Homo sapiens: one gene and its partners. The protein of the gene in region 1 purifies or fractionates together with the protein of each later gene. This does not show direct contact. Each region holds a gene or a part of one and is shown in the gene's direction. Other genes may lie near its edges. The genes, in order: ALDH6A1, FAXC, PITPNB, GLUD1, KIAA1191, PNPT1 and MME.

Region 1 (3,500 bases):
GAACCAAATTGCCTGTGTTCAAATCCCAGCTAAGCCAGTTATTAGCTGTCTGACTTTGGGGGATACCATTAATTTTTTTTTTTTTTTTGAGACAGAGTCTCACTCTGTCGCACAGGCTGGGGTGCGGTGGCACAATCTTGGCTCACTGCAACCTCCGCCTCCCAGGTTCAAGCAATTCTCCTGCCTCAGCCTCCCAAGTAGCTGGGATTACAGATGCCCACCACCACACTTGGCTAATTTTTGTATTTTTAGTGGAGATAGGGTTTCACCATTTTGGCCAGGCTGGTCTCGAATTCCTGACCTCAGGTGATCCGCCTGCCTCAGCCTCCTAAAGTGCTGGGATTACAGGCATGAGCCACCACAGCCAACCAGGATACCTTCTTTATGCCTTAAATTTATTCACGTATAAAATGAATAACAATAGTACCTATGTATTTCATAACATTGTAAGGACTGAATTATCACTATTGGCCAGGTGCAGTGGCTTACGCCTGTAATCCCAGCACTTTGGGAGGCTGAGGCAGGCAGATCACCTGAAGTCAGGAGTTTGAGACCAATCTGGCCAACATGGCAAAACCCCCTCTACTAAAAATAAAACAATTAGCCAGGTGTGGTGGCAGGTGCCTATAATCCCAGCTACTCGGGAGGCTGAGGCAGAAGAATCCTTTGAATCTGGGAGGCGGAAGTTGCAGTGAGCCGAGATTGCACCACTGGACTCCAGCCTGGGCAACAGAGCAAGACTCCATCTCAAAAAAAAAAAAAAGAAGAATTATTACTATTGCCACATCGGCCAACAGGTGCATATGTCCCGAGGCAGGAAGAAGCATGGCACATTCAGACAGCGGAAATGGGCTGGGGCACAGTGAGCAAATGAGAAGAAAAGGAAGAAATGAAGTTAGAGAGGCAGGCAGGGGTTGAGTCATGTAGGGCTCTTTAAGCCATTTAAAGAAGCCCTCATCAGACTGTAGTTGTTATCTACTTATCTGCAGTACCTGGAACAGAGCAGGCTGCCCAAACATTTGTTGAACAAATAGGCTAGGGGAAGTTCTTTCTAGTCATAGGACTAGAGCCATTTTGAAACCTTCATTAATAAATTACATGTTTTGTTATACAAGTCTCCCCTTTTATAGGTTGATTTTTTTTTTCTGTGCCAGCTATGTGCTGCCACAGGGCGAGGGATGTGGGGCTTTTTTATTTTATTTATGTTTGGGTTATTAAAAAATTAACAATGGGATTGCATAGCATTATGACAGTGTGGCCAAATGGTTAAGAAGTCAACACTTTGGTATTTGGAGGTTGATTATATAGTTTGTATATTAGTCACAGCTTTTGGTTTTTTGTTTTGGGGTTTTTTTGATGGAATCTTTCTCTGTCACCCAGGCTGGAGTATAGTGGCATGATCTTGGCTCACTGCAACCTCAGCCTCCAGGGTTCAAGCAATTCTCGTATCTATGCCTCCCGAGTAGCTGGGATTACAGGCACGTGCCACCACACCCGCCAATTTTTGTATTTGTAGTAGAGACGGGGTTTCGCCATGTTGGCCAGGCTGGTCTCGACCTCCTTACCTCAGGTGATCTGCCTGCCTCGGCCTCCCAAAGTGCTGGGATTACAGGAGTGAGTCACCGCACCCGGCCTAGTCACAGCTTTTGTAAAAATGACTAATTTGATACTAGTAACATTTCTTTTAAGCAAAACAGAGTACAACTATTGTTTAAAAATTGTTCCCTGCCCACCCTCTCCATTTATTTATTTTTTTGAGATGGGAGTTTTGCTCTGTTGCCCAGGCTGGAGTGCAATGGTGCATTCTCGGCTCACTTGCAACCTCCACCTCCCAGGTTCAAGCAATTCTGCCTCAGGCTCCACCACGCCCAGCTTTTTTTTTTTTTTTTTTTTTTTTTTTTTCCCAGTAGAGACGAGGTTTCGCCATGTTGGGCCAGGCTGGTCTTGAGCTCATGGCCTCAAGTGATCCGCCTACCTCAGCCTCCCAAAGTGCTGATATTACAAGTGTGAGCCACCGCTCCTGGCTGCACCCCCCAGTTTAATTATTATAAATTACTCTGGTAATCTGGTAAAATGTCATTCTAGCTTGCTAGTAATTATATAAGTGTTAGATCTGCACAATGTATTCTCTTTTGCTCAAGCCTACTCTTATAAACTATATCTATATATAGAGAGAGTTAAATATGCTGAATTTTTGGGCTCACATGTTATAGGTAATTGAGAAGTGAATTTGTATAATGTCAGACATTTTACTTTAGATTTCTAAGATACTTTGGGTTTGCCACTTCAATATAGAGCTCATGATCTCTGATAATTATCAGAAATGGCCGCTGGGTACAGTGGCTCATGCCTGTGATCCCAGAACTTTGGGAGACCAAGACTGGCGGATCACCTGAGGTCAGGGGTTCAAGACCAGCTTGGCCAACATGGTGCTAGCCAACATGGGCTAATCTGAAATTAGCCCTTCTCTACTAAAAATACAAAAATAGCTGGGCATGGTGGCACACACTTGTAATCCCAGCTATTCAGAAGGCTGAGGCAGGAGAATCACATGAACCTGGGAGGCAGAGGTTGCAGTGAGCCAAGATCACACCACTGCACTCCAGCCTGGGCAACAGAGCAAGACTCTGTCTCAAAATAAATAAATAAATAAATAAATGGCCTACTATATAATAGCTGGGGGCACGGTGGCTCACACTTGTAATTCCAGCACTTTGAGAGGCCGAGGAAGGCGGATCACTTGAGGCCGGGAGTTCGAGACCAGCCTGGCCAACATGGTGAAACCCCATCTCCACTAAAAATACAAAAATTAGCCAGGCGTGGTAGCAGGTGCCTGTAATCCCAGCTACTCGAGAGGCTGAGGCAGGAGAGCTGCTTGAACCCGGGAGGCAGAGGTTGCAGTGAGCTGAGATCATGCCACTGCACTCCAGCCTAAGTGACAGAGCAAGACTCCATCTCAAACAAAAAAGAAAGAAATACTAGTTTCAGCATAATAATGATGGCTAAGGTTTGATTGTTTACTATCTGCCAGGTATTATGTTAAATGTTTTAGATCAATTATCTTAGGAACAATATATATTGGATTCTGATTGCATTTCTCAATTAGGAAAGTGAGTAGCACTTTATAATACCTCCTTCAAAAGCTAATTAAAAGAAGAATCATGAAACCCCAGAAATATATGCTAACTTTTTTTCTGTTTTCCTTAGGGCATCCAATTCTACACTCAGTTAAAGACCATTACTTCTCAGTGGAAAGAAGAAGATGCTACTCTTTCCTCACCTGCTGTTGTCATGCCTACCATGGGCCGTTAGAAACAAGTTTGTTTAAGACTGACTCCATCCTGAGTAATCTCCCTTTATTTTTGACCAGCTTCATTTGTCAGCTTTGCTCAGATCAGATCGATGGGATTGGAATACATTGTAACTAAAATCTTCCTCAGGACTATTAACCCCCGCAAAGTTTCTATAGGGAACTGCCTAGTGTAACAATGAAACCAGAT
Region 2 (3,004 bases), on another chromosome or scaffold:
ACGCATGATTTTAGGTCAAGGTATTTAATTATTTTTACTTAAAATAGGCATTTTTGGTTGGGAAAGAGAAGGATGAACAATTTGATGTCACCTTTAAGACTGATGTTTTTAATTCTGCTTTTGGGACCACTTGATCTAGAATGCCTTGAAAATTCCAGAAAGATTTAACAACACACTGAGGTAAGCAAAACAAGAAAAGAAAGTAGGGGTGAGGTGATACCCAGATAATGCAAATGCAGGATGTATTGTCTGTGAATTTCAGCATCAATCTGAAAAACATGTTTTGATAATGCCTGATAATTCATCATCTCACTGATTACATGTCTTTTTTTCTATTTGTTTATAATCTTGTGTCTTCAAATGTGTGGAAGATGTGCAGACTTATTTTTAGGTATCTGAGATAGGAAGGGCCAATGTTGGCATAATTTGAACCCACATTTCGGGGCTAATGGGCGGACACCACCTGGAAACACTTACCTGCACCCTCTGTTTTGCAATCACAATGATTAGCATCTTGCTGAATGATGACCCCAATGTGAAGATGGCATTTCAGTGTTTATTTCTGGATCTATGAGTTACTTTAGCAGAGTTATTAGTAGTTTATAAAGCCATATTTAAACTTGTACACTTGATTGTAAGATAGATTTGAATTGTGCACTATGTTGACTACTGTATATAAATGTGGAAATTCTGTATATTTGGTCTTAATGCTATATGTATTTGATGTGTAAATGATAACTAATGGATATGAAATAGTTTTCTGTGAATGTCTTTCTTCCAATTTACTTCTCTTTTGCAAATTTGAATGTTTAAACTTCAGGCTCATGGGGAAAATCTGAAATGTTTGCATCTAATATACTGTTAAGTGGTGGTCTCTTAGATGACTGGGAGAGTATTTTAGTTGTAAGGCTCTTGTATAATTAAAACAGAGGTAATGAATTTTTTAGGCATATAACTTTGATAGAATTTCAAGTGAGTGGCTTTTAAGAAGAAAAACAGATCTCTGGAATATGCTGTCCCATCCTCTCCTGCTTTTATTTCATGCCCAGTGTGCCTCAGAGTGTTACGAAGTGTGAGAACCACTGGTAGAGAGAAGACAAGGAGGAGAGGGAGAGCTGGGAGCACATGTTGAGACCTTTACTATGGCTAGGCCTTATAATAGACCAATTTCCCCTTGTATAAATATTGTCTCAATTAGGCAGGGTGCAGTGGCTCATGCCTGTAATCCCAGGACTTTGGGAGGCCAAGGTGGGCAGATCACCTGAGGTTGGGAGTTTGAGACCAGCCTGACCAACATGGAGAAACCCTGTCTCTACTAAAAATACAAAATTAGCCGGGCATGGTGGTGCATGCCTGTAATCCCAGCTACTTGGGAGGCTGAGGCAGGAGAATCGCTTGAACCCAGGAGGTGGAGGCTGCAGTGAGCTGACTTTGTGCCATTGACTCCAGCCTGGGCAACAAGAGCAAAACTCCATCTCAAACACACACACACACACACACACACACACACACACACACACACACATATAGTCTCAATTAGTTTTCATACCTCTTCAATAAAGTAATTATTGTTCCCAAATTACAGATGAAGAAAGACGTTTGGGATGATAAACTGGCATATGGTAATATGGCCATGATATGCTCAAGTCTTTAGGGTCAGAGATTCACAGCAAGATTTTGGAAATTCAAATCTTACTATGAAGTGATTCACACATGTGTATGGTAATGAACCTTAAAGGATAGCTGGGCCTATAGGCATGTCAAGATCTATAGAGACATGCAGGATGTTTCAAATTCTATCTTAAAATTTGACCAAATCTTTGGTCAAATAATAATACTGTTACTCAAATATTAGCTTTTTACCATTTAGAGCAAATTACAATCAGGTAACATTCAAAATTCTAACCCTCCCTTCCCAACATGGGAATATCTATTAAGTAGGAAATGAGAGAACCCCCTAATTTCCCATTTCAGTGATAATACTGATTGAGTATCTCTTATCTGAAGTGCTTGGGACCAGAAGTGTTTTGGATCTGGGTTTTTCTCAGATTTTGAAATATTTGCATTATACCAGTTGAGTATCCCAAAATCAAAACTGGAAATCTGAAATGATCCAATGTCCGTTTCCTTTGAGTGTCATGTTAGTGCTCAAAAAGTTTTGGATTTTGGAGCGTTTCAGATTTTGGATTTTTGGATTTGGGATGCTCGACCTGTAGTTTGGTTTTCATCTTTTTAGACTCCATTTCTCTTGACCTATAAATCCTATCAGCCCTGTTTATTAACATAGACCCTAGTCAGAAATACTTTGAAATAGATCTACATCTACTTCAACGTCAGTTGGTTCCACACCCTTCTAGAACTTGTGTGGGGTCCTGGACTTCCCGTCTGTCCTGTTAGGGAAGCTTTGCTGTCCTAGCTTTCAGGACTCATCAGAGGGAAGAGGGTCATTTACCTTTCCAATGTGCTGTGATCTCAGAGTCGTTAAAATACATGTTTTGCTGCCATTTGTACTGTTTCTTGACTCAATGTTTCATATTTCTGTTCTTCTTTCCTTTTAGAGGAGAGGCGGAACAGCTGGTCTCCCTGCTCTCTCAGAAGCTGCTTGATTTGTTTCTAGATGACGCCACTGGCAGGCACTCATTAGATCTTTCACAGCTGGGCTGGTTCCCATTAGCAACAGACTTTTCTTTTAAAAACTGTCAAGGTCAGAGCAGCTTATCCTTTGGATAAAAGTGGATTTTGGAGGAAAAAAAAAAGAGGAAAAAGAACCAGCTTCCTTCCTTACGGAATTAGCGTGTTGCTGCCCCGTATGCCTAAGAGGTCTATTTTAGTGCCAGCGTTCTTGTTATGAAGACTTAGGGGGTCGTCTCCAGTGGAGGGACTGTTCGGATTGGAGGGTTACGTTCACCTACCGCAGGGTATGTTGGGCCTGGGCAAACACACTGGGTAACCTGTGCTCAACATTATATACAGGTAAATCTGGATGAAAACAAACATGAAAGGC
Region 3 (3,500 bases), on another chromosome or scaffold:
GAATATACTTAAGGCAGCAAGTGACATTCATCTCCCATACCTACAAAATTTTATACTTGGATATGCTTTAATTTCTCATTTTCTGCATGGGTCCTTTACATTGTCATTTTTCTTCAGGTCTGTTCTATAAAATGTATTCAGACTTTTATTCAGAGATATCTCCTTATTCTGGGGCTTTTTGCATTAAGAAACAGTATAATGTCATCTAACTCTTAAGAACTACATTGTATTAATGTGCAGATTGAATAGCTGTTAACTCTTAGGTTTTACATTGGGGTAGTAGATCAGAAGTTCTTAAGAAATAATTGCTTCTATTTAAAAAAAAAAAAACCACACACACACACACAAAACCTTTTATACAGTTAATTTTTTTTTTCCTTGTGAGACAAGGTCTTGCTCTTTTGCCCAGGCTAGAGTGCAGTGGTGTGATCTCAGCTTGCTGCAACCTCTATCTCCCAGGTTCAAGTGATCCTCCCACCTGAGCCTCCTGAATAGTTGGGGCTACAGGCATGTGCCACCATGCCTGGCTAGTTTTATATTTTTTGTAGAGACAGGGTTTCACCATGTTGTCCAGGCTAGTCTCAAACTCCTGGGCTCAAGTGATCCTCCTGCCTCAGCCTCTCAAAATGCTAGGATTACAGGCATGAGCCACCATACCCAGCTAAATATTCTTAATCATTTTTATTTAAAATGTAAAAAATTATGTGTTCATTTCTACTGGATTACTTTAGGATTGAAATAAACTAGTTCATCAGACTTAGAACCTGGTCACCTTTGATTGCCATACTCTTTCAAGCAGTTGGATAGATACCAAGAAAGAATTGATGGTGCTGTTAAATATATCCAGTATCTCTCTTCTCCCAGCAAAGTGCCTGCATTCGTGAGGATGATTGCTCCCGAGGGCTCCTTGGTGTTTCATGAGAAAGCCTGGAATGCGTACCCCTACTGTAGAACAAGTAAGCTTGGCCCCCAGCAGCCATTGCACCCCTCCACCCTGAGAATGAGAGGGATTCCCAGTACCAGTGTCTTTGAGAAGGTTTACACTGAGCAAGGTCTTCCTTGGGTTCTTGGATAGTCACTGCTAGAATGATGGCAGAGGAAGGGCTGCATTGGGTTCCTCCCCCTAGAACTTTGTGACAGGCATAAGTTCATTCCCACATGGCAGCCACTTTGGGGTCCTAGCTGACTATGCTGGCTCCAGGGGTAAGCCAAAAGAAAGGTCGTTTACACTCAGAAGGGTGTTTTGGTGTGTTTCAACAGTATTTTACTTAAATTGCTACATAATAGAGGAGGAATAGGACAGACTTCTGAAACAGCATCCTATCATTTGCTAAATTGACCTTATAAATAATGTTTTGCTTTTGTGACATTATTATTCTTTTTAGCATTATTTTTAAAATTAGATTATTGTTCATATTTTATTTGTACTCCATAATCTAATGTACTGTATAGTGTCACTTGTGTGGAAACTGTTTTGCAGACATAAATTACTAAATAAATGTTCTGTTTTCAGATAGTTTAGTCTTTGTGACATTAAGTATTGGGACAGATTGTTTTGACTCCAATTAATATTCTGAAATTTTTCTCCTTTCATTACCTACCTCTCCATTATGCCTCAGTTGTAACGGTGAGTAAAACTATTTTTGTGTCTCATACTTTCTTTATCTTTAAACTTTGTTTTACACAGTAATTATTTTCAACCATTCTTTGCTAACTGCACCTCGCTGCATGGTTCCTTCCTGTGTCCCACCAACCAGCCGCCACACTCTACCACATGTTCCCAGTGTTCATGGGCCCTTTCCACCCTTGTCTCAAAATCTCCCTATTGATTTTATTTTGCTTTTGTTACTCCCTTCAAACGCCATATTTGTTTATCAGACCTCACAGCTTCTTTATTAGCCCGATATGCCACGTGGCAAGTAGAATTGTTTAAATTATTTAAAAGCATGTAGCATTTGGTTTGCCTGACAAGTCTATAAAAATCGGTAGCCAATGATTCTTTGTCACTTGAGTATCAGTCTCCTTGTAGAGTCAAAGCATGGATGCCTATACTGGGAAAAGCTCCCTCAGACGTGGGCACCAAGGAACAGGTAGAAGATCACTGTCATTTTCCTGTTGTGTTTTCTGCAGAATGAATATATGAAAGATGATTTCTTCATTAAAATCGAAACATGGCACAAACCAGACTTGGGAACATTAGAAAATGTAAGTTTCAACTCTGCACTTTTAGTACAAAAGTCCCTGGAAACGAGAATTCTATATGTAGTTCACTTTGTCATCATCAAAGTAATGTCACCTGTGTATCTGACCGCACCAAGCTGTGTCAAATTGAGATGAGGCGGGCAAGCAGCCAGAAACCAAATAGGCTTTCCCTATCAGTCCGCTTGCCTTGACACTTTGGTAAAGTTGCTGTTTTGATCAGCAACTCTCTTTATCCGAGACAAGGAGAGCATGAATAAACAAAATTCACAGATAATCCCCAGCCCAATTTTAGCCATTAGTTTTGCTAATTAGATTGCTTTTATATCTGAGTGTTTGTCAGAGCTGCTCTGCATAGCAGGATTGATTGCTTTAATTTTTACCTCTTGTCTGCTTTGCAAGGGTATGGGCTCATGTTAGAGAAATGGCCAAAAGGCAGGAGGGATAAAGTACTTGAATAACTTACAAAAATGTTGAAAAGCTGTTGACTTATATAAGTTGGTTCACATTTATCTCTTTAAGATTCAAGAACATCTTTGAGTTAGGACTTAAAAAAATGTAATCATTAACTTTTGGTAAGGTTTGTCGTGGAACTTGGGAAGTCCTGTTGTATAGGTTGATGCCCTTGGTCTAGGAGTTCTCAAAAGTGTGGTCTTTGGATGGGCCAGCAGCAGCACAGTATCTGAGGACTTGTTTGAAATGCAAATACTCTGACCTCACCCAAGAACTACCGAACCAGAATCTCTAGGGGTGGGACTCAGCAGTTTCTGTTTTCTGATGCACATTCATTCCAGGAGAGTAGGTTAATGATTGTGGCAAATTCTGTTTTTACTGTTCTATTACGGTGCTCTTACGTTATTGATGCCAGTTAATAGAACTTTGAATTTTAATATGTAGTATTTTACTTGAGTTTTCTTTCAAGTGATCATTTGACATTTTATGTTGTTTTTCTTTTTGTTTTTTTTTTTGAGACAGAGTCTTACTTTGTTGCCCAGGCTGGGGTGCAATCACGTGCTGTCTGCTCAGTGCAACCTCTGCCTCCTGGGTTCAAGCAATTCTCCTGCCTCAGCCTCCCAAGTAGCTGGGACTGCAGGCATGCACCACCATGCCTGGCTAACTTTTGTATTTTCAGTAGAGATGGAGTTTCACCATGTTGGCCAGGCTGGTCTTGAACTCCTGACCTCAGGTAATCTGCCTGCCTCAGCCTCCCAAAGTGCTAGGATTACAGGTGTGAGCCACTGCACCCAGCCTTTATGTTGTTTTTCTTAGTAATCCTCTATAATTTATAATCTAGATAAGAT
Region 4 (3,500 bases), on another chromosome or scaffold:
CTGTTGGGAGTGGGAGGGTAGAAAAAATGCTGCAGCTTCTTGTGGGTATCCTTCACACACAAACACCCAGTGCCCCAAGCACTGTGCAGTCAAACATCAACCCCACTCAGACTTTCCTCCTTGGGATTGAGAAGCAATGGATTATAGAGAAAGAAAGGTGGATTAGCACTCCAAAACTTTGAAGAGTAATTGACCAAGACCCCCAAAGCCAAAGCTGTGGGCATCCCCACTTCCAGTATACCCTGTACCAACACGTAATGGCTACTAGATACAGGGGCACTAGTACCTACCTGTCTGCTTGGCTACCTGCCCTCTTTGCAGAAGTGGTGAAGGGAATCACTCAACCTCAGAAAGGGAAAATGGCTTTCTCATTTTCAGATTGAAAGAGGTTGGCAGTGGGTGAGGAGAATAACAGGTAAGGATCTCTTTTAATATACCCATTTGAAGCCAAAACCTCTGTTTAGACATACGGTATTTTGAACCTGGTGATTATTCATTGCCCATGTTTGTGAATTATCAGAAAGCAGAATTCTTGCCAGGCATAGTGGCTCATGCCTGTAATCCCAGCACTTTGGGAAGCCAAGGTGGGAGGATCACTTGAGCCCAGGAGTTTGAGACCAGCCTGAGCAACATGGTGAGATCCTGTCTCTACAAAAAATTCAAAAATTAGCTGGGCATGGTGGTGTGCACTTGTGGTCCCAGCTACTCAGGAGGCTGAGGTGGGAGGATTACCTGAGCCTAGGAGGTTGAGGCTACAGTAAGCCATGTCTGTGCCACTACACTCAGCCTGAGCAACAGAGCAAGACCCTGTTTCCCACCCCTACCCCCCCAAAAAAAAGCAACCTGAATTCTTGAACTCCCTGCAACCAGGTCACCCAAACCAAAGGTAAAAGGAACATAAAAAAGCCTTCTGGAAAGTGTACAGAAATTCATTGCAGGGTGATTTTTGTCTTGTGAAATCATAGTTACTGTTATTAGCAGGTTTTTTTAACGTTTTATATTCATTTTTCATGGTGTTCTGATGTACAAGCTGCTTCAAGTGTTTTTGGACATAGCTTGGATGTAAAATGTAAAAAGTGGATATTTTCAATTTGTAGCTTTCTTTTTTGAAGCTTACTTAAGTTTGTTCTAAATATAACCCCTTCTTTCTCACCCACCCCAACACATTTTTTTAAAAACACCACCAGGTATCCGTTACAGCACTGATGTGAGTGTAGATGAAGTAAAAGCTTTGGCTTCTCTGATGACATACAAGTGTGCAGTGGTTGGTAAGTGATCGCCTTTCTTGCTGCCTAATGAGAACTCTGGGGAAATATGTTTACACACATGTTACTGTTAAGATGCTGTAGAAATATACCTTATCAGAACTGATTTTTTTTCAAGTTGTAATCTTTAAGACCTGCATCATTTTTCAATTAGTCTAAATTAAGATATAGCCTTTTTTTTTTACATGGGGGATTTTTTAAAATAGGAGATAATTGGATTTTAAGTCTAGATCTTTGTTTTCAATTCCTCAACACATTCTGTAAATAAGACCAAATTATAGTAGAAGGAGAGTAAATAAGCTATTATCTTTTAGAAGTGGTAAAGAGCACTGATTAAATATATATTAGAACTTGGCTAGCCAATTTTATTGAACAATTTCTGTTCAACAAAATGTTGTTTAAAGTACAGTTTAGAAAATGATGGTAGGTTTATTTCTTGAATTTTCAGAAATTCAAGCTTAAAGCATCACGTTTCTCTAATATTGTGTGGTGCTTTCTGTCATTTTACTTTTTTAACATTTATATGGAATAGCAACCATCAGCCTTCTCTTTCAGATGTGCCGTTTGGGGGTGCTAAAGCTGGTGTTAAGATCAATCCCAAGAACTATACTGTAAGTATGAAAGTGATATTTGTTTTTTATTGTTGTTGTTGTTTTTGTTTTTCTGAGACAGAGTCTTCCTCTGTTGTTCAGGCCGGAGTACAATGGCGCAATCTTGGCTCACTGCAACCTCCGCCTCCCGGGTTCAAGCAGTTCTCCTTGATCCAGTAACTGGGATTACAGGTGCACGCCACCATGCCCGACTAATTTTTGTATTTTTAGTAGAGAGGGGATTTCACCATGTTGGCCAGGCTGTTCTTGAACTCCTGACCTCAGGTGATCCACCTGCCTTGGCCTCCCAGAGTGCTAGGATTGCAGGCATGAGCCACCGCACCCGGCCTCAAAGTGACATTTGTGCACACAGTGCATTTATGAAGGACTTGAAATTACTGGGCTTCTCTGTATCCCCCACTATCAGTGAGATCAGTAGTCCCCATTGCTTTTCAAATGGAATAGAAAAATGTAAAGAATTAACTCATAGCGTGTTTTGCCATATAAAGATCACCTACTTAATATCTATATCCTTTATCATTTTCTGTTTCATTTGGTTTTGTTTTTATGAGTCTTTTGTTTTACTTTTTTGCTTTTTGTTTTATTATTTTCTTACTTAGTTAAAACGTAATTAATATCTTCACTTATATACTTATACCCATATTTATATAATGTCTTCACTTAGACACTTATACCCATATTTAAGAAATACTGTGATCTGATTAGCCAGGCATAGTGGTGCACACCTGTAATCCCAGCTACTCGGGAGGCTCAGGCATGAGAATTGCTTGAACCCAGGAGGCAGAGGTTGGCTGAGATTTCACCACTGCATTCCAGCCTGGGTAACAGAGCAAGACTCTGTCTCAAAAAGAAAAAAGTATTACTGTGATCTGAAGTTTTTATGTCAGGATCTGATTCTAGTGACACATATCTTAACTAAGACTATAAAAACCTTACTTTTTATCCAGTCAGTTCCAAGTTAATTCAAACTGATTGTCACAATGCTTTACATAATACTAAATTATCTATATACAAACATAAATGCATGATTTTTATTCTCTTTAAAATTCACCATTTAAATGGAATATAATTATATTTAAATTAATCTTAATTAAGATTTAGTGTATTTTTCAGTGGGGAATTAATAGAATGGGAATTTGAGCCCTAGTTCTACTATCTTGTTTTTATAACCTACTTTTTTGATCCCTTATTTTGTCACCTTTAAAATGGCAATGCCTACTTTATGAGTTGTTCTAAGGATTACATGAGAAGACATATGAAAATGTACTATAAATAGAAAATAAGATGCTAGCTATAATCTCAAGCGATTTTTATATCAATTTTTTCTTTTGTTTTTGTTTTCTTATTTTACAGGATAATGAATTGGAAAAGATCACAAGGAGGTTCACCATGGAGCTAGCAAAAAAGGGCTTTATTGGTATGTGTAGCCACATAGTTTTTGGTATAAAGTGGGAACATCTAAAAATTTTTTTTTTTTTTTGAGACGGAGTCTCACTCTGTTGCCCAGACTAGAGTGCAGTGGTGCGATCTCGTCCGCCTCCTGGGTTCAAGCAATTCTCTTGTCTCAGCCTCCCAAGTAGCTGAGATTACAGGCATGTGCCACCACACCCAGCTGATTTTTGTA
Region 5 (3,101 bases), on another chromosome or scaffold:
TTGTTTTGAGACAGAGTCTCACTCTGTCACCCAGGCTGGAGTGCAATGCTGTGGTCTCAGCTCACCACAACCTTCGCCTCCCAGGTTCAAGCAATTCTCCCACCTCAGCCTCTGGAGTAGCTGGGACTACAGGCGCCCACCACCACGCCTGGCTAATTTCTGTATTTTTAGTAGAGATGGGGTTTCACTCTGTTGGGCAGGATGGTCTCAAACTCCTGACCTCGTGATCTGCCCGCCTAGGCCAACCAAAGTGCTGGGATTACAGGTGTGAGCCATCACGCACCACCTATACTTTGATTTTCTTATTCACATCTGTTGAATCAGCAACACTACTTTTATTTTACAAGCTTGAGAATGTGTTCTAGCAGTGTTACAAAACTTATTCATTGTTCTTTTAGCACAATGTAACTTTTTTTTTTTTTTTGAGATGGAGTCTTGCTCTGTCGCCCAGGCTGGAGTGCAGTGGCACGATCTCGACTCACTGCAAGCTCCGCCTCCCGGGTTCACGCCATTCTCCTGCCTCAGACTCCCGAGTAGCTGGGACTACAGGCGCCTGCCACCACACCCAGCTAATTTTTGTATTTTTAGTAGAGATGGGGTTTCACCTTGTTAGCCAGGATGGTCTGGATGTCCTGACCTCTTGATCCGCCCGCCTTGACCTCCCAAAGTGCTGGGATTACAGGTGTGAGCTACTGCATCCAGCCCCATGTTGCATTTCTAAATACAAAGAAAATGTCACCATGTACAACTAAGAGGAGGGTGGGAGTATTGTCCTCAAGGTTCTTCAGCTGTCCCTTTAGGAATAACCTCTTCAGCTTGGTGTGAGGGAAGGCTTCCTTCTGGCTAGAGAGCCTTTGTGTGAGGTTCAGAATTACTGCTGTGGTGCCTCTCTGGGGAAAGTCTCCTCTTCTTTGAATGGTCAGTGTGGTCTCTTGCTTCTGGGGAGAATAGTAGATATCCATGTTGTCCTCCTTATTTTGTGATGGGAGAGGGGAATGGGCATGACTGTCATCTCCTCTGTTCCCAGAACAGACCCAGGAAAGCATTCAGCATTTTGAGCGACAGGCAGGGCTGAGAGATGCTGGCTACACACCCCACAAGGGCCTCACCACCGAGGAGACCAAGTACCTTCGAGTGGCCGAAGCACTCCACGTAAGCTCTTAGGAACTTTGAAAAAACAAAACCTTCAGTGTTCATGGCTTGAAATGTGGCTGTGGTTTTGAAGTTACCAGCTCAGTTAGTTGGGGGCTGTGGAGTTAGTCTCGCTCCCGAGCTCTTAGCCTCGTAGTTTTTGCTTATCCACCTATACAGTGGGGTGTCTGTTTTGCTACTTCTGGTTAGCAGAATCAAGTGAGAGCCTCAGCTTACATATACATAGGAGTACTTTATGAATCATAAAGCAAATGTGGAGTATCTTGGGGAGAACTGGGCAGCCTCAACAGAGGTAACAGCTTAACTGGAAAGGAACAAGTTAAAATCAAATGTGGAATTGGAATGTTTTTGCTATTTCATTTCTATAAGTGAAGAATTTTGGTAAGGGTTAATTTAGTGATAGCCAAGTATTTGAATGAATAGTTTCAAATGACTTTCTTTCAGTGAAGACCGCTTCATACTGGATAGTGTTTTATGATTGTGAAGCACTTGCATTCATTTCATCCTCACAATCACCTTTTGGGACAGATGCTCTTCTCCATATTTTGTAAATGAGGAGATTGAGGTTCGAGGCCATCTATTCAGCCAGTCATAGTACCCGAACCCAAGTCTCCTGATGCCTTACTTCCTGTTGGCTTCTTCCTCCTCATTCCAAAGCAGCCTGGAAATCTGGCTCCTGAAGGGGCTCATATGGAAGTCAGGGGCAGATTGTGAAGAGACACAATTACAGTTAAGAAACTTGGGCTGTCTTCTTTAGGCAAGGGGGGGTCAGAATCCAGGCTTGTTCCAAGCTTTATTTTAAGAGTTCTGAACAGGGTATGATGAGGGCAAGGTGAGGAGAGCACACGACGCAGGAAAGAATCATGGTATACATTATACATAACGAGGAATAACCCGGATCTGGTGGCCTGTGGGTGGGGATATAAAACTGTGGATATAAAACTGTGGCCTGTTTGCAGTCACCCAGGCTGGAGTACAGTGTTGTGATCTCGGCTCACTGCAACCTCTGCCTCCCGGGTTCAAGTGATCCTCCCAACTCAGCCTCCCAAATAGCTAGGATTTACAGGCATGCGCCACCATGCCCAGCTGATTTTTAGTAGAGATGGGATTTCACCATGTTGGCCAGGCTGGTCTTGAACTCCTGACTTCATGTGATCCACCTGCCTTGGCCTCCCAAAGTGCTGGGATTACATGTATGAGCCACCGCACCCGGCCCTGTTTGCATTTTGTAATGAGCATTCCAGATGATTCTTTTGCAGGCTAGGTTTAAAAACTGCTATAGGAAATCAGGTTTGGGCTGGTGGCCAGTTTAAGCTTTCAAACAAGACAGAAGCTTCCAGAGAGGGGCACCGGCAGCCTTTGACCCTTAACTGAGAACTTTCCAGGATAGGTCAGTGAGAATTCTATTTGAGCAATTCACCTTATATAATGGTAGGATTGACTTTGGTTGACCCACTTTCTGTGTCTTGCCCATAGGAGTAGAACATGAGGATGGCTGAAATATTAGCTGTAACTTACATCTTGTAACAGATTGTCAACTTACATGAATGGATCTGTTGAGCGTTTGAGAAAATTCAAACGTGATCATTGTTTGGTGTGCAGCTTGGGTTAAGCAGTGGCGTGGCAGGCCTGGAGGGAGGAAACAGCATGGGAACCTTGCTCTAGAAGAGCTGAGATGTAGACCTGTCTCTCCCCACTAGACTGCGAGTCAGAGGAATGCTCACGGTGCTGAGGGAACCCAGAGTGGCTGACTATGGGAGAGAAGGAGGAGAGAATGGAACAGGCTCCTCAGAGGAAGCATTTAGCTGGAGAGAAGCAGCATGCCTGAGTATTGGCTTGGAGAGACTGAGGATGGGCAGGGCTTTGTACATGGTAGGAGCAGCAGCGAGACAAGAGCTTAAGCCCTGCTTAAAAGGCCAAGAAGGCTGGCAGCTAGCGTTCTGGCTCTT
Region 6 (3,500 bases), on another chromosome or scaffold:
TACATTAAAATTTTAGTGATCGGCTGGGCGCGGTGGCTCACGCCTGTAATCCCAGCACTTTGGGAGGCCGAGGCGAGCGGATCACAAGGTCAGGAGATCGAGACCATCCTGGCTAACACGGTGAAACCCTGTCTCTACTAAAAAATACAAAAAATTAGCCGGGCGTGGTGGCGGGCGCCTGTAGTCCCAGCTACTCGGGAGGCTGAGGCAGGAGAATGGCATGAACCCGGGAGGCGGAGCTTGCAGTGAGCCGAGATCGCGCCACTGCACTCCAGCCTGGGCGACAAAGTGAGACTCCGTCTCAAAAAAAAAAAAAAAAAAATTTTAGTGATCATGGTAAGATAAACATTAATATATGAATGAATATTACTGCTTTTAAATTGTTTTTACCCAGTGCACAAAACGAAAATATTTTAAATACTTTTGTAGTTAAAATGCTTTAAATTTTAGGGAATATTCTTTAACAGTTTTCAGTAATTTTAATCATCTACTTTTCTGTTTTATAGTAAAATATTTTTACATGTGTCTAGGTCAAAAAAAAAAAAAATCTCAAGTGACCATGGCATGTTTTAGGTTCATGTATGTAGTTGAATTGTTTATATATTTGTCTGTATTACGTTCCAGAAACTGTTCAGGTTCCATTATCAAAACGAGCAAAATTTGTTGGACCTGGTGGCTATAACTTAAAAAAACTTCAGGCTGAAACAGGTAAGAGTTGTATGAAGTTTGGGGTTTTTTAATTAAATGCTAGACCATAAAAGTTTGCTATTTCATCTCTAGTATGTTGCTTTAAATATATATTTATTTGAGAAATGAGAGAAAGACCAGGAGAAAAGGATATGACGTGTCTTGACTGTGAGTTTTCTGTGTGCCTATTAATAAATTAGCAAATGGTCATTCTTAACTAAATTCAAGAAGGATTACAAAGAATTCATCAGGACTTTTTTGCAACATTTTATAGTTGAACATCTAGAATAATTTTTAGTTTTTAACTTTAGAGGAATTATTACTTAGTTATTTCTTTTTATTCTGCTACTTTCACTTAGTTTTATTTTAACTCTTTTATTTAAAGAGTATATAAAAAAAAGCTTTAATTTATTTTTCCTGAAGCAATGTTTGAATTACCTCGTACTTCAAGGTTTGAGGTTACTGCAAGAGAGTGAGAAGCACTGTCACCTTAGCCATTTGCTAACACTGAGAAACTGATGTGATTTTGTCCCTTATTCATTTATTCACCCCTCGTAAGAGTAAGCGGGAGAAAGAAAAAAAGTAAGGAAAGGGTTCTATTATAGTTTCTACTCGTAATTAAGAGAGCAGAACCAGACTCTCCAAAATTTGTATAGATATATTTGATTTCACTAGATGGTGAATTTCAAGAAATCAAGCATATTGGCTCACCATTGTATCCCCAGGGCCTACCTAGTATAATGCCAGGTACCTAGCAAGTATGCAGAGTGTATTTGTTGATGAATGAATTCCTTCATTCCTAAAGTAATGATTAAATACAGCATAACTCCACCCAGCTACTAATAGGTCCCTCCTATTCTCACATCTATTTTTAAGACGAGTTTCCACTGGAATGAGCAAGTTAACTTTTTTTTTTTTTGAGATGGGGCCTTGCTCTGTCACCCAGACTGGAGTGCAGTACACAATCACAGCTAACTCCAGCCTTGACCCCTGGGATCAAGTGATCCTCCCGACTGTGAGTCCCAAGTAGGTGGGCACATGCTACCAGGTCCAGCTAATTTTTGAATTTATTTTTTGTAGTAACAGGCTCTCCCTATGTTGCCCAGGCTGGCCTTGAACTCCTGAGCTCAAGTGATCCTCCCACCTCAGCCCCCCAGAGTGCTGGGATTACAGATGTGACCCACTATGCCCAGCCAAGTTAACTTTAATATGTTACATTTTGTTTTTAAAAGGTGTAACTATTAGTCAGGTGGATGAAGAAACGTTTTCTGTATTTGCACCAACACCCAGTGCTATGCATGAGGCAAGAGACTTCATTACTGAAATCTGCAAGGATGATGTAAGTATAGATCATATTAATTACGTATCATATAGCTATATTTGTTTTTTCTACTTTTTGTTGATGTTTTCTTTATGAATCTTATGGCTTATTTTGCACTTACAGCAGGAGCAGCAATTAGAATTTGGAGCAGTATATACCGCCACAATAACTGAAATCAGGTAATATCAAGTAATATACTATGCTGAGCATTTTCCTTTCTTTAGAGACAGGGTCTCACCCTGCCACCCACAGTGGGATACAGTGGTGCCATTGTACCTCACAGCTGCCTTGAACTCCTGGGATCAGGCAGTTCTCCCACCTCAGCCTCCTATTTAGGACTACAAGCACACACCACCACACGTGGCTGATTTTTTAATTTTTTTGTAAAGACATGGTCTCACTATGTTGCCCAGGTTGGTCTTAAACTCCTGGCCTCAAGCCATCCTCCTGCCTCAGCCTCCCAAAGTGCCAGGATTACAGGCATGAGCCACCGTGCCCAGCCCTGTTTTGGTTTTTAACAGATTCCTATTATAATCCCAATTTAATTTTACATTTACTTTGAAATCATAAGGTGTTTAGATTACATGCCAATTGCCATATAATCATTATTTTTTAAGGTATAGTATATTTTGTTTTCTATATCATTTTATAAAATTAAAGTAGCAGTTCTGTGGTTCTAATTATGATAGGTTCTCTTAACTGAATTCTTTTTTTTTTTTTTTTTTTTTTTTGGGACAGAGTCTCGCTCTGTCACCCAGGCTGGAGTGCAGTGGTGCGATCTCAGCTCACTGCAAGCTCTGCCTCCCGGGTTCACGCCATTCTGCCTCATCCTCCCCGGTAGCTGGGACTGCAGGTGCCCGCCACCACGCCTAGCTAATTATTTTTTGTATTTTTAGTAGAGACGGGGTTTTACCTTGTTAGCCAGGATGGTCTCGATCTCCTGACCTTGTGATCCGCCCCCCTCGGCCTCCCAAAGTACTGGGATTACAGGCTTGAGCCACCGCGCCCGGCCAACTGAATTCTTTAACCAAATTTTCTACTAGTAATTGGTGAAACCCCAAATTAATTTTCCCAGTAAATATTAAATAGGCCCAAAATAGACTTAGCAATATTTCTTTATTTCTTTTTTTTTCTTTTGATGGCTTATTTTAAACATATCTGAATGCTTAATTGGCACATATTTTTAAATCCAATTTCGGCTGTGCATGGTGGCTCACGCCTGTAATCCCAGCTCTTTGGGAGGCCAAGGCAGGTGGATCAGGAAGTGGGGGGTTCGAGAGCAGCCTGACCAACATGGTGAAACCCCATGTCTACTAAAAATACAAAAGTTAGCCAGGCATGGTGGTGCATGCCTGTAATCCCAGCTACTCAGGAGGCTGAGGCAGGAGAATCGCTTGAAGCCGGGAGGCAGAGGTTGCAGTGAGATGAGATCGCACCACTGCACTCCAGCCTGGGCGACAGAGCGAGACTCCATCTCAAAAAAAAAAAAAGC
Region 7 (2,886 bases), on another chromosome or scaffold:
TACAGATGAAAATTTGAGACTATTTAAACTTATAAATCATATTGATGAAAAGATTTAAGCACAAACTTTAGGGTAAAAATTGCCATTGGACAGTTGTCTAGAGATATATATACTTGTGGTTTTCAAATTGGACTTTCAAAATTAAATCTGTCCCTGAGAGTGTCTCTGATAAAAGGGCAAATCTGCACCTATGTAGCTCTGCATCTCCTGTCTTTTCAGGTTTGTCATCAGATGGAAATATTTTGATAATAAATTGAAATTGTGAACTCATTGCTCCCTAAGACTGTGACAACTGTCTAACTTTAGAAGTGCATTTCTGAATAGAAATGGGAGGCCTCTGATGGACCTTCTAGAATTATAAGTCACAAAGAGTTCTGGAAAAGAACTGTTTACTGCTTGATAGGAATTCATCTTTTGAGGCTTCTGTTCCTCTCTTTTCCTGTTGTATTGACTATTTTCGTTCATTACTTGATTAAGATTTTACAAAAGAGGAGCACTTCCAAAATTCTTATTTTTCCTAACAAAAGATGAAAGCAGGGAATTTCTATCTAAATGATGAGTATTAGTTCCCTGTCTCTTGAAAAATGCCCATTTGCCTTTAAAAAAAAAAGTTACAGAAATACTATAACATATGTACATAAATTGCATAAAGCATAAGTATACAGTTCAATAAACTTAACTTTAACTGAACAATGGCCCTGTAGCCAGCACCTGTAAGAAACAGAGCAGTACCAGCGCTCTAAAAGCACCTCCTTGTCACTTTATTACTCCCAGAACAACAACTATCCTGACTTCTAATATCATTCACTAGCTTTGCCTGGTTTTGTCTTTTATGCAGATAGAATCAATCAGTATGTATTCTTTTGTGCCTGGCTTCTTTCTCTCAGCCTTACATTTGTGAGATTCCTCTGTATTGTGCTGATTGTGGATCTTTTCATTCTCATTGCAGAATAATGTTCTATTGTGGGACTTATTACAATTTGTTCATCCTATTGTTGATGGGCACTTGAGAACTTTCCATTTTGGCGCTATTACAAATAGTGCAACTATGAATGTACTGCATGTTACCATCTTACTTGAGCCTTTAATGGACTTATTTCTTCAAATCCTTCCAAAAATTATTATAAGCATTGAAATTATAGTTTCAAGCCAACTGTGGATACCCTTACCCTTTCCTCCTTTATCACAACCACCGTTACAAGTATACTTATATTTCCCTAAAATACATTTAAAACTTACCTAAGTGACATTTGTAGTTGGAGTAATAGGAGCTTCCAGCTCTAATAAAACAGCTGTCTCTAACTTATTTTATTTCCATCATGTCAGAGCAGGTGAAGAGCCAGAAGTGAAGAGTGACTAGTACAAATTATAAAAAGCCACTAGACTCTTCACTGTTAGCTTTTTAAAACATTAGGCTCCCATCCCTATGGAGGAACAACTCTCCAGTGCCTGGATCCCCTCTGTCTACAAATATAAGATTTTCTGGGCCTAAAGGATAGATCAAAGTCAAAAATAGCAATGCCTCCCTATCCCTCACACATCCAGACATCATGAATTTTACATGGTACTCTTGTTGAGTTCTGTAGAGCCTTCTGATGTCTCTAAAGCACTACCGATTCTTTGGAGTTGTCACATCAGATAAGACATATCTCTAATTCCATCCATAAATCCAGTTCTACTATGGCTGAGTTCTGGTCAAAGAAAGAAAGTTTAGAAGCTGAGACACAAAGGGTTGGGAGCTGATGAAACTCACAAATGATGGTAGGAAGAAGCTCTCGACAATACCCGTTGGCAAGGAGTCTGCCTCCATGCTGCAGTGTTCGAGTGGATTGTAGGTGCAAGATGGAAAGGATTGTAGGTGCAAGCTGTCCAGAGAAAAGAGTCCTTGTTCCAGCCCTATTCTGCCACTCCTGACAGGGTGACCTTGGGTATTTGCAATATTCCTTTGGGCCTCTGCTTCTCTCACCTAAAAAAAGAGAATTAGATTATATTGGTGGTTCTCAGCAAGAGAAGGAGTATGTGTCCAATGCTGCCTTCCCATGAATCTGTCTCCCAGTTATGAATCAGTGGGCAGGATAAACTGAAAACTCCCATTTACGTGTCTGAATCGAGTGAGACAAAATTTTAGTCCAAATAACAAGTACCAAAGTTTTATCAAGTTTGGGTCTGTGCTGCTGTTACTGTTAACCATTTAAGTGGGGCAAAACCTTGCTAATTTTCTCAAAAGCATTTATCATTCTTGTTGCCACAGCTGGAGCTCTCAAACTAAAAGACATTTGTTATTTTGGAAAGAAGAAAGACTCTATTCTCAAAGTTTCCTAATCAGAAATTTTTATCAGTTTCCAGTCTCAAAAATACAAAATAAAAACAAACGTTTTTAATACTATTGCTTTTATGCCTAGTCAACTCTGTTCCAAACTGCCAACTCCTGTGTAAATCTCTACCCCATTTATTTCTTGAAAAATATTAAGATTAAATGGAGCTTTTATCTCTGTAGTCTTGCATTTCCCACTAGCTTCAAATTGAATTTTTAGAAAATGAATGATATAAGCTTTGTATCCATTATGTCCTTGTTTTCCCCACCCTTTTTCAAAGATCACCATGACTTTCTGATTGGATTTTTTTTCAAAAGTGAAATGGCCATCAAATGTTATATGGAGTCACTAGCATAATCAGATGACTTAGGCAAAAGCCAAAAGTAAGTGTCTTTATCCACAGTCTCTAGTCTGAAGAAGTTGACCATTTGGTTGGTCAAGTGGACAGAGGAGTCACATCTGACTGGTGGTCAAACTGGCACATGTTTATCGCATTCTAATCTTTTATCTAACAATGGTTTCTTAATTTCTGCTTCTTTGTATTTTGCATTTCCTCTAAAACAGTGAGAAA

Evidence for each region.
Region 2: the proteins of ALDH6A1 (region 1) and FAXC fractionate together in Homo sapiens (co-fractionation; one large-scale study listed by BioGRID). This does not show direct contact.
Region 3: the proteins of ALDH6A1 (region 1) and PITPNB fractionate together in Homo sapiens (co-fractionation; one large-scale study listed by BioGRID). This does not show direct contact.
Region 4: the proteins of ALDH6A1 (region 1) and GLUD1 fractionate together in Homo sapiens (co-fractionation; one large-scale study listed by BioGRID). This does not show direct contact.
Region 5: the proteins of ALDH6A1 (region 1) and KIAA1191 purify together in Homo sapiens (co-immunoprecipitation; one large-scale study listed by IntAct). This does not show direct contact.
Region 6: the proteins of ALDH6A1 (region 1) and PNPT1 fractionate together in Homo sapiens (co-fractionation; one large-scale study listed by BioGRID). This does not show direct contact.
Region 7: the proteins of ALDH6A1 (region 1) and MME fractionate together in Homo sapiens (co-fractionation; one large-scale study listed by BioGRID). This does not show direct contact.

The regions. Positions count from the first base shown.
Region 1 is NC_000014.9:74,060,454-74,063,953, reverse strand, and holds part of ALDH6A1 (methylmalonate-semialdehyde/malonate-semialdehyde dehydrogenase [acylating], mitochondrial isoform 1 precursor), read left to right. Parts: intron 1-3,207; coding exon 3,208-3,312; 3' UTR 3,313-3,500. UniProt on the Homo sapiens protein: Malonate and methylmalonate semialdehyde dehydrogenase involved in the catabolism of valine, thymine, and compounds catabolized by way of beta-alanine, including uracil and cytidine.
Region 2 is NC_000006.12:99,270,668-99,273,671, reverse strand, and holds the end of FAXC (failed axon connections homolog), read left to right. Parts: 3' UTR 1-2,504; downstream 2,505-3,004. UniProt on the Homo sapiens protein: May play a role in axonal development.
Region 3 is NC_000022.11:27,895,257-27,898,756, reverse strand, and holds part of PITPNB (phosphatidylinositol transfer protein beta isoform), read left to right. Parts: intron 1-864; coding exon 865-956; intron 957-1,619; coding exon 1,620-1,627; intron 1,628-2,130; coding exon 2,131-2,205; intron 2,206-3,500. UniProt on the Homo sapiens protein: Catalyzes the transfer of phosphatidylinositol and phosphatidylcholine between membranes. Also catalyzes the transfer of sphingomyelin.
Region 4 is NC_000010.11:87,074,344-87,077,843, reverse strand, and holds part of GLUD1 (glutamate dehydrogenase 1, mitochondrial isoform a precursor), read left to right. Parts: intron 1-1,187; coding exon 1,188-1,268; intron 1,269-1,820; coding exon 1,821-1,876; intron 1,877-3,229; coding exon 3,230-3,293; intron 3,294-3,500. UniProt on the Homo sapiens protein: Mitochondrial glutamate dehydrogenase that catalyzes the conversion of L-glutamate into alpha-ketoglutarate. Plays a key role in glutamine anaplerosis by producing alpha-ketoglutarate, an important intermediate in the tricarboxylic acid cycle.
Region 5 is NC_000005.10:176,348,664-176,351,764, reverse strand, and holds part of KIAA1191 (putative monooxygenase p33MONOX), read left to right. Parts: intron 1-1,027; coding exon 1,028-1,152; intron 1,153-3,101. UniProt on the Homo sapiens protein: Potential NADPH-dependent oxidoreductase. May be involved in the regulation of neuronal survival, differentiation and axonal outgrowth.
Region 6 is NC_000002.12:55,641,845-55,645,344, reverse strand, and holds part of PNPT1 (polyribonucleotide nucleotidyltransferase 1, mitochondrial precursor), read left to right. Parts: intron 1-624; coding exon 625-708; intron 709-1,919; coding exon 1,920-2,026; intron 2,027-2,131; coding exon 2,132-2,187; intron 2,188-3,500. UniProt on the Homo sapiens protein: RNA-binding protein implicated in numerous RNA metabolic processes. Catalyzes the phosphorolysis of single-stranded polyribonucleotides processively in the 3'-to-5' direction. Mitochondrial intermembrane factor with RNA-processing exoribonulease activity.
Region 7 is NC_000003.12:155,181,319-155,184,204, forward strand, and holds the end of MME (neprilysin), read left to right. Parts: 3' UTR 1-2,386; downstream 2,387-2,886. UniProt on the Homo sapiens protein: Thermolysin-like specificity, but is almost confined on acting on polypeptides of up to 30 amino acids. Biologically important in the destruction of opioid peptides such as Met- and Leu-enkephalins by cleavage of a Gly-Phe bond.